Regions from separate parts of the Homo sapiens genome. Here regions 2 and 3 are each linked to region 1. Evidence: fine-mapped expression QTL. A gene starts in region 1. Each other region holds a variant in brackets. All regions are shown on one strand. Distances are between the middles of the regions.

Evidence for each region. PIP is the estimated chance that this variant, and not a neighbour inherited with it, causes the effect.
Region 2: its variant is fine-mapped to the expression of SLC25A29 in whole blood (INTERVAL, PIP 0.92).
Region 3: its variant is fine-mapped to the expression of SLC25A29 in whole blood (TOPMed, PIP above 0.99).

Annotation. Positions count from the first base shown.
Region 1 is chr14:100,305,441-100,308,109 of GRCh38, reverse strand. SLC25A29 (solute carrier family 25 member 29) reads left to right here and starts at 1,666. Exons shown (of 4, transcript NM_001039355.3): 1 at 1,666-1,911. The coding sequence starts at 1,878. It overlaps MIR345 (microRNA 345), which reads right to left and starts at 251; the gene lies at 154-251. RefSeq lists enhancers at 686-855, 886-955, 2,164-2,669 and silencers at 1,046-1,115, 1,206-1,675, 1,736-1,835.
Region 2 is chr14:100,331,931-100,334,724 of GRCh38, reverse strand. WARS1 (tryptophanyl-tRNA synthetase 1) reads left to right here. Exons shown (of 11, transcript NM_004184.4): 11 at 1-935. Among named protein-coding and RNA genes, the nearest start is that of SLC25A47, 10 kb to the right of the region's middle. RefSeq lists an enhancer at 1,729-1,778. The variant G/C (reference allele first, on the strand shown) is at 1,278.
Region 3 is chr14:100,374,662-100,377,455 of GRCh38, reverse strand. It overlaps WARS1 (tryptophanyl-tRNA synthetase 1), which reads left to right and starts at 2,109. Exons shown (of 11, transcript NM_004184.4): 1 at 2,109-2,173. WDR25 (WD repeat domain 25) reads right to left here and starts at 971. Exons shown (of 7, transcript NM_001161476.3): 1 at 961-971. RefSeq lists silencers at 838-887, 1,078-1,137 and enhancers at 1,648-2,007, 2,018-2,157. The variant G/C (reference allele first, on the strand shown) is at 1,156.

The DNA.
Region 1 (2,669 bases):
GCCTCCAGCCACCTGAGTAGCCCCACAGCCAGCTCCTGCCCTTTTGGGTCTGGGCTTCTCTTGGGGCCCCCATACCACTGCTTTTCTGGCCCATGGGCCACTCTCCCCCATCCGCACACCTGCCTCCCTGAGGCAACCAAGTGGGTCAGAGAGGCTGTCGATATTCAAACCCAGGCCTCCAGACCCCTCGTTCAGGGCCCACCAGCCATCACGAGCCCTGGACTAGGAGTCAGCAGACCTAGGGTTTGGGTCTCTGCTTAACATTCTACTTAGACTCTAAAAGGAAACTAACATGAGCACTGGGGACCCCTGCCCCTAGCACCAGGCTGCACTACTGACAACACCTACCTGTGTGTCCTAGTACCAAATACACAGAACCTTTCGACCTGCACCTCCAGGAGGTAGGTACCCACTGGAATTTGGATAAAAGAACCATGTGACCCTAAACCTGGAAACGTGGCACACGGTGTGGCCTTGCCTGCCTGCAGGCCCTAAAGAAGGAAGCTGGGCCCGGCCTAAGGCTGATCTGACTCCTACAGCGAAGAGAAAGCGCCTGGCCCGTCCCTGCTCCCAGGCTCCAACCTGACAGTCTGGACCTCCAGAGGCGCTGGGGAAGGGCTGGTGGGAAGTCACCGAATGGGACGCTCCACAGGGACCAGGGCAGTCCCTTGCCACTGCGAATGTCAGGGACTCCTGGGGGGCCGAGTCAGACTCGGCTCTCATTCATCCCCGCAGCCCATGGATACCCTGGTGACCCAGAGCCAAGCACCCTCCGACTTCAGCGCCTGAGCGCGGCCCCTACCGAGCCCCTCCGGTCTCGCCCCGTCCGGCCGCCGCTGACGGAGGCGCTGCGATCTGGCCCGACTCCACTCTGCAGCCCAGTCCAGGAACCTCCCTCTCTCCACAACCTTCCGCGGCTCCCGCGACCCGCAGTCCTCGGGAAGGAGCTGTGGCCCGAAGGCCTGCTGCGCCCTTTGCCCATGGCCCCTTTCCCTTTTAAGGTTCCCTGCTCTCCGCCCAAATCCCAGCCTCAGGCTCCGCAGGAAGCGCCCGTGCGCGTCCGACCCCCAGAACCCGGCGGGTTCGGCCAGGAGTCCGGAAGCCCCGGAGGCCACCGCCGCCGCGGGCGCGCAGGCGGGACGGGCAGAGGCTCCCCACGGGCGATTCCCGCTCGCGGAGTTTCGCAACTAGCGGCGTCCCAGTCTGCGGGCCTCGGAACGTCCCGGCGCTCCACGGCCGTTTTCGCGGCAGGGTCCGCACGGCACAGACTAGGGCGCTGAGGTTCTGCGGCGGCGCCGGACTCCGAACCCAGGGTCCGGTTCCCGACCCGGTCCAGACCAGAGCCACCCCGCGTACTCCGGGTGGGGGAGTCCTCGGCTCAACCCCGCCACCCCGCGCGTCCCCTCCCGCCGGACCTGCGCACCCAGCGCGCTCTTTGTCTGAGGCGTCCCCGCGCCCCGCCCGCGCGCCCACCACGTCCCCCGCGCCCCGCCTCCCGCGCACGCCCGGCCAATGAGGCGCGGCGGCGAAGCGCAGTGCCCGGGGTGTTGTCCGCGCCGTGCCCGCCCATTGGCCTCACTCGGCGCCCCCACCCGGGCCCTGCCGGCAGGCACGAGGGGCGGGGCGCGCGGCCCGAGGTGAGGGACCGCGGGCCGGAGGGGATCCAGCGAGTCAGCTGCCGCCGAGGGACCAGCGCGGGTCTAGCTGCTGCCGCCATCCCCACCATCCCTGACCGCGCCTGCCCGGGCTCCGCGCCAGGAGGAGCGGCCAGGCCCAGCCCCGGCACCGCGCGCTCGGGGACCCCGACGGCGCCCAGCCCGGCGAGGGGCCTCAGGGGGAGGACGAGGAGGAAAGGCGGCCTCGCCGGGGACCCGGCCATGGCGCTGGACTTCTTGGCTGGATGCGCGGGGGGTAAGGAGGCGGCGGGCCGGGCCGGGCCGGGGCGAGGCGTCCGGGGAGGGAGGTCGGCCCACCAGCACGCCCTGGCCTCGCGGCTTCCCGCTGGCGGGGGTCGCCGCGTCTGTGAATGGGGACCACAGTTCTCTTGCCTCGGGCGGGTCTCGTGGGCGTAAATTGACTTCAGGCCCGGGCTGTCCGCGAGGGCAGGTGTCTTTATTCTCTCTGGGCACGCTCGGACGGGAGGTCTGGGGCGCCGGGGCAGCACCGTGGCTGAGCGGAGGCCAGGACTGCCGGGAGGATGCCCCACTGCCCCCCGCGCCGAGGTCCCGGGCTCATCTCCTTCCCCTCCCCCATCCCCATCCGTTGCGCACTGGGAGCAGGGTCCCCTCCCCCGGCCGTATATTTCGGGACTGACTCCACCCCGTCCCGCGCAGCCATCCAGCGGGGTTGGGGCTACGGAGCCGACCCCCTACTCGGCTGGCCTTGGAGGGCACTGAACCACTCTGGCGCCGAGTCACGCCTTGGAACGCCGCCCCTTCCTACGCGGTTTTGTGAGCTGTTGGGGGCGGAAGGGGGGTGGTGGGTGGGTCGGGCGAGCCGGTGTGGGGCACCTTCTCCGAGGCGCGGTCGCGGCTCTGGGGTTCCTCCCATGCAGTTGTCCCCGGGAGGGCCCGGGCGGGCGTGCAGTCCAGGCTCTCCCATGCCCCGACCGTGGGCGTCGGGCACGGCACTTCCCTGTTGGGCCTCTGGCTTCTCTGCTTTTACCTTGA
Region 2 (2,794 bases), 27 kb before region 1:
TTTCTTCCTGTGAGTTCCATTATTTCTATCTCTTATGGGCAAAGCATTGTGGGTAATTGGTGCTGGCTAACATTGCATGGTCGGATAGAGAAGTCCAGCTGTGAGTCTCTCCCCAAAGCAGCCCCACAGTGGAGCCTTTGGCTGGAAGTCCATGGGCCACCCTGTTCTTGTCCATGGAGGACTCCGAGGGTTCCAAGTATACTCTTAAGACCCACTCTGTTTAAAAATATATATTCTATGTATGCGTATATGGAATTGAAATGTCATTATTGTAACCTAGAAAGTGCTTTGAAATATTGATGTGGGGAGGTTTATTGAGCACAAGATGTATTTCAGCCCATGCCCCCTCCCAAAAAGAAATTGATAAGTAAAAGCTTCGTTATACATTTGACTAAGAAATCACCCAGCTTTAAAGCTGCTTTTAACAATGAAGATTGAACAGAGTTCAGCAATTTTGATTAAATTAAGACTTGGGGGTGAAACTTTCCAGTTTACTGAACTCCAGACCATGCATGTAGTCCACTCCAGAAATCATGCTCGCTTCCCTTGGCACACCAGTGTTCTCCTGCCAAATGACCCTAGACCCTCTGTCCTGCAGAGTCAGGGTGGCTTTTCCCCTGACTGTGTCCGATGCCAAGGAGTCCTGGCCTCCGCAGATGCTTCATTTTGACCCTTGGCTGCAGTGGAAGTCAGCACAGAGCAGTGCCCTGGCTGTGTCCCTGGACGGGTGGACTTAGCTAGGGAGAAAGTCGAGGCAGCAGCCCTCGAGGCCCTCACAGATGTCTAGGCAGGCCTCATTTCATCACGCAGCATGTGCAGGCCTGGAAGAGCAAAGCCAAATCTCAGGGAAGTCCTTGGTTGATGTATCTGGGTCTCCTCTGGAGCACTCTGCCCTCCTGTCACCCAGTAGAGTAAATAAACTTCCTTGGCTCCTGCTCTTGTCATTGTGCTCTGTCTGGGAGGTCTGAGGAGGGAGCAGAGACCCCTCCCCTCACCCTTCTGTGGATGACCTTGAGTCTGCTGGAGTCAAAATTTGGGGATGAAAGCGCACAGTCCCAGGAACCCCATGGTGTTGTGCCACAGCTCCCAGGAATGGGCTTGTGCTGGGAGAGCCCTTAGCAGCATCCTGGTGCGGGCTCCCTCTCACACCACATTTCTCATTTCCAGCAGCTGATGGAGAATGCAAGCAGAGGTTGTCCTCGCTTTTCAGAGGAGGGGCTGGCCGTGGGGTGCTTAGTGGTGCTGTGTAGTGACGGGGAGCACAGGCTGGGAGCCAG[G/C]TCGGGCCCCATTCACATGAGGCCCAGGGCAGAGGCCGAGCTGCAAGGGAGCCCTGGGCTCATTCTACCGGCCCATCCTTATTTTGCAAGTAGGGAAACTGAGGCTTAGGAGAGGAGAACATGACTTGTCCAAGGCCATAGGGTGACTCTGATACAGCGAGTCTGTCCTGACTCTTGGTGCTTTCCACACACATACAGAGGGACCATTTTACAAATGAGGGAACTACGGTTCCCACCCTGGAGGCTGGAGGCCTGGGCTCGAGTCCCACTCAGGTACCCGGGTGCACCATGACCTCAAGTAGGCTTCCTCTCCCGGTCTCGACTCCTGCTGGCCTGGGCCCCACCCCTGCCCTCCCCTGCTCACCTGGCTGGCTATGGCCAGTGGGGGTGAGCCACCCACAGAGGCCACATAGCTCACTAGCCTGTTGCCTTGGGCAACTAATATGACTCCTCGTCGCTCTACTGCACCTGTGACGCAAGTGCAATGAGGGGTGACAAATGGAGTCAGTGACAGCTGCTGCTGTCATTGTCCACCCAGCCACAGCATCTATTGGCAGGGCCCTGGTGAGACCCTGGCCCCAGGGAGGAGTGAGCCAACACCAACCAGCTTCTCCCCTCACCGGCTGTGTGACTCTGGCCAGGTCACTTAACCTCCCAGGACCTCCATCTCCTCCCCTGTAAAAAGCAGTGATGCCTCCTGTTTAGGGTCTTAGGAGGGGTGCCCTGGGTCCAATACTCAGGTGACTTGCCCAAGGCCACTGCTGGTCAGGACACAGGGGAGCCACATGTCTCCCAAGCCTCCCCAGTTTTGCTAAAAACCAGTGGTTTCTGAGAGAAATGTTCCCTGAAAGACATGGGCGTGTCTGGATTAGGATGGACAGGTTGCAGTGGCCCCATGAGTGTTTGGGGATGAGGCATGAGGCCGGGTGCCTGCACCACCGTGGTGCCAGAGGCTCTGCCGGAAGAGCACTCCTGCTCTGGCTGGTAATGTCCACTTGTCAGACAGATGTGGGGCCAACCCAGCTCAGTCTCTCTGTCCCGTGGCCCCCAGCCTGGAGGAGAGACCAGCTGAGCCTGCCTGAAAGGAGATGGTGCCTGAGAAGCACACAAAACAGCACTGGGTGGGGAAGCAGGGACAGGAAGGAGGGTGGCTGAGCACACGGGTGGCTGTGGAACAGCTCGTTGCTCCAGGACGGCACTTGGCAAGCAACAGGCCTGCCTCTGGCCCCCAGTGCCCGCCTGCAGCACCAGCAGATGTGCCCTCCCCAGGGTCACACTGGCTGGGCCTTGAGGCCCAGGACTCTCTGGTCATTACCATAGAGGTTGTAAAGACAGTGAGGACAGCCAGACGCGGTGGCTTACACCTGTAATCCCAGGCTGAGGCGGGCAGATCACGAGGTCAGGAGATCGAGACCATCCTGGCTAACACGGTAAAACCCCATCTCTACTAAAAATACAAAAAGAAATTAGCCAGGCGTGGTGGTGGGCACCCGTAGTCCCAGCTACTCGGGAGGCTG
Region 3 (2,794 bases), 69 kb before region 1:
CAGTGGTGCGCGCCTGTAATCCCAGCTACTCTGGAGGCTGAGGCCGCAGAATTGCTTGAACCCGGGAGGCGGAGGTTGCGGTGAGTGGAGATCACGCCACTGCACTCCAGCCTGGGCTACAGAGCGAGACTTGGTCTCAAAAAACAACAACAACAACAACAACTTCTAAAGCCAGCCAGCCAGCTCATCTCCAATGGAACTAATATAATATGAAAGACTAATTATAAACTAATGGAACCGTGCACTGCAAATAATTTGGCATTTCTGTTCTCTAAATGCTAAGCCTGGTCCCGAGGCCACTCTCAACTCCTCTGCCCAGGCACCACCCACCATGCACCCAGATTCCCACCACCAGGGTGCCCGTGCTCCCTCTGGAAGGAGATGAGGGATTAAACGAAGAGGAACAGACAGTAAGATGGAAGGGAAGGCAGGGACACTGGAGAAGAGTCTAAGGAAGGAGCGAGTGACTCTGACAGTCACTATCAGCAAGTCAGCCCCATGAGGACAGGACTTTCTGTGTTTTGTTCACTATTCAATGCCCAGCGTCTAAAAATATTTCTGGAATGCAAACGGGTGGGAGGGGGAGATGCTAGGAAGTAAAAGAAATAGGATATTCCCATTCAACAAACATTTCCTGATTACGTACTCTTTGTCAAGCCCTATGCTGGGTCTGGTGTGGGTGGAAATCAAACACAAAACACAGATCCCCCCGGAGGCCCCAGAGCGATGAAAGCAACAAACAAGATACGACCAGAGATGGGTTTTGAAGGATGAATAGGAGTTAGCTGAGCTGTCAATAGTAAGAAGTAAGGTTGGTCCAAGGCACAGCGCTTTCTGAAGGAACAGGAAGTGAAAGGAAGGCGAGCGGCTATGAGAGACCGCGTTAAGCGGCACGGGGCGCTTTAGGCGCTGCCCAGTCCCGGCCCCTCCAGCCCGGGGCCCGCCGCTCACCACACGCACCGGAAGCGCTCGGTTCTCCCGGAGGCAGACCGGCCAGCACACTACCATCCAGTCACGTTCCGACGCGACGCCGCGGCCGCCAGCCAATCAGTGGCGGCCTCTGCCCCGCCCCCGCGCGAACAGCCAATGACGGCGCCGTCGGGCCGGAAGTTGTTCCGTCCGGACGGCGTTTCCACGGACGCCCAGGAGACAGCC[G/C]GTTGCTGAGCCGGGAGCGCTGACTGGCCCGGCTGGGCAGGGTAAGCGAGGGGAGTAAGGCCGGGGCGGAGTGAGGAAACAAGGGAGGGAGTGATGGAGGGACGCTGGCGCGGCGCCCAGTGGCCTGGCCCTCCCGGGAGTATCCTTAGAGCCCGGCTTGCTGCCCGCCGCGTTCTGGCACTGTGAGGCGCGGAGCCTGCCACCGACCCCTCGCCCCTTTCCTCTGAGCGCCGCCGACCCACCCCGTCTCCCTTTCCCACTGGCACCCTTCATCGTCTCCGCCTGTTCGCTTTTCCCGAGGAGAGAGGCCCCCATTTTTATTTAGCGCCTGCCATGTGCCAGAGGCTTTGCGTAGTGTTGCACTTAGTCCCCTCAACGGTAATGTTAGCAGGCTTCTCCATGCCCATTCCACAGATGAGGAAACCGAAGGGGAAGCAGAAAAGTAATGCGACCCTTGCCCAAGGTTTCGAATAAGTCCAAGCTGGGATTGAAACCCAGGCGTCTGTGACCCCAGAACTCCTGATCTTTCCACTGCACTGTGCCGCCTCGGTGAACAGATGCGGGGAATTTACAGTTTCTCTTTCCACCGCCCACGACTACACAAAATCAGTCACACTGACGCTGAGGGTGGGGAACGGGAAGAGGGTGGGGAGGTTATTTGGAGGCCAGCGGGGGGTGAGGGGTGGCTGATGCAATGACCAGCTAATGGCTCGATTCTCAAGAGGGTTTCATTGGTCTCAACCTGGCCCCCCAGGCAACCCACCCCTGATTGGACAGTCTCATCAAGAAGGTTGGTCAAGAGCTCAAGTGTTTCTGAGAATCTGGGTGATTTATAAGAAACCCTTAGCTGAATGCAGGGTGGGGAGAACGAAAGACAAAAGCATCTTTTTTCAGAAGGGAAACTGAAAGAAAGAGGGGAAGAGTATTAAAGACCATTTCTGGCTGGGCAGGGCACTCTCAGCAGCTCAACTGCCCAGCGTGACCAGTGGCCACCTCTGCAGTGTCTTCCACAACCTGGGTATGTATTGCCATCTTTGCCAGGCTTAGAGCTTGTTCGTGTTTTTAGCAAAGTGCTGAAAACCTTGGTTTAGGGGGTCAGGACTTGTGTCTTAGGATTAGGGTGTTATGCATTTTACTTCTTCCATTGACCCAAAGTTCAGGTGATTCACTGCTCCCATAGGGAACAGAGATCCTGGCTGAGCAGTCGCGGGCTTGGATCCGTAGCTTGCCTCTCAGCACCGTCATGCTGTCTGTCATAATTTTCACTGATGCACCCTCCTTCTGTGCTCAACATCAGAACGTATTGTCATTCTTATTGTGACACCCAAAAGTGTCTCGTGCCTGGCTTCATAGAAATTAATGTCTTTGCCTTTTAAGATAATGTTCATGCTGTTATTTGGCGGGGAAAGCAATCTTTCTTTTAGTGTTTAAAAAAAATGGAACATGATGGGTCCCAAAAGGTGTCAAGAAATCCTTGCTCTAAAGAAGTCATTTTCTTGTCCTCTGGGAACTTGCCAGTCCAAAGGTATTGTCACCTACACTCTGGGGCCAAGATAGAAAGGATGGTATTCTACCTCCTGGTGGTATTCCAGGGATCCAGAAACACTCCTGGGCCACATTCTCTTCTCACCTGCTCCAG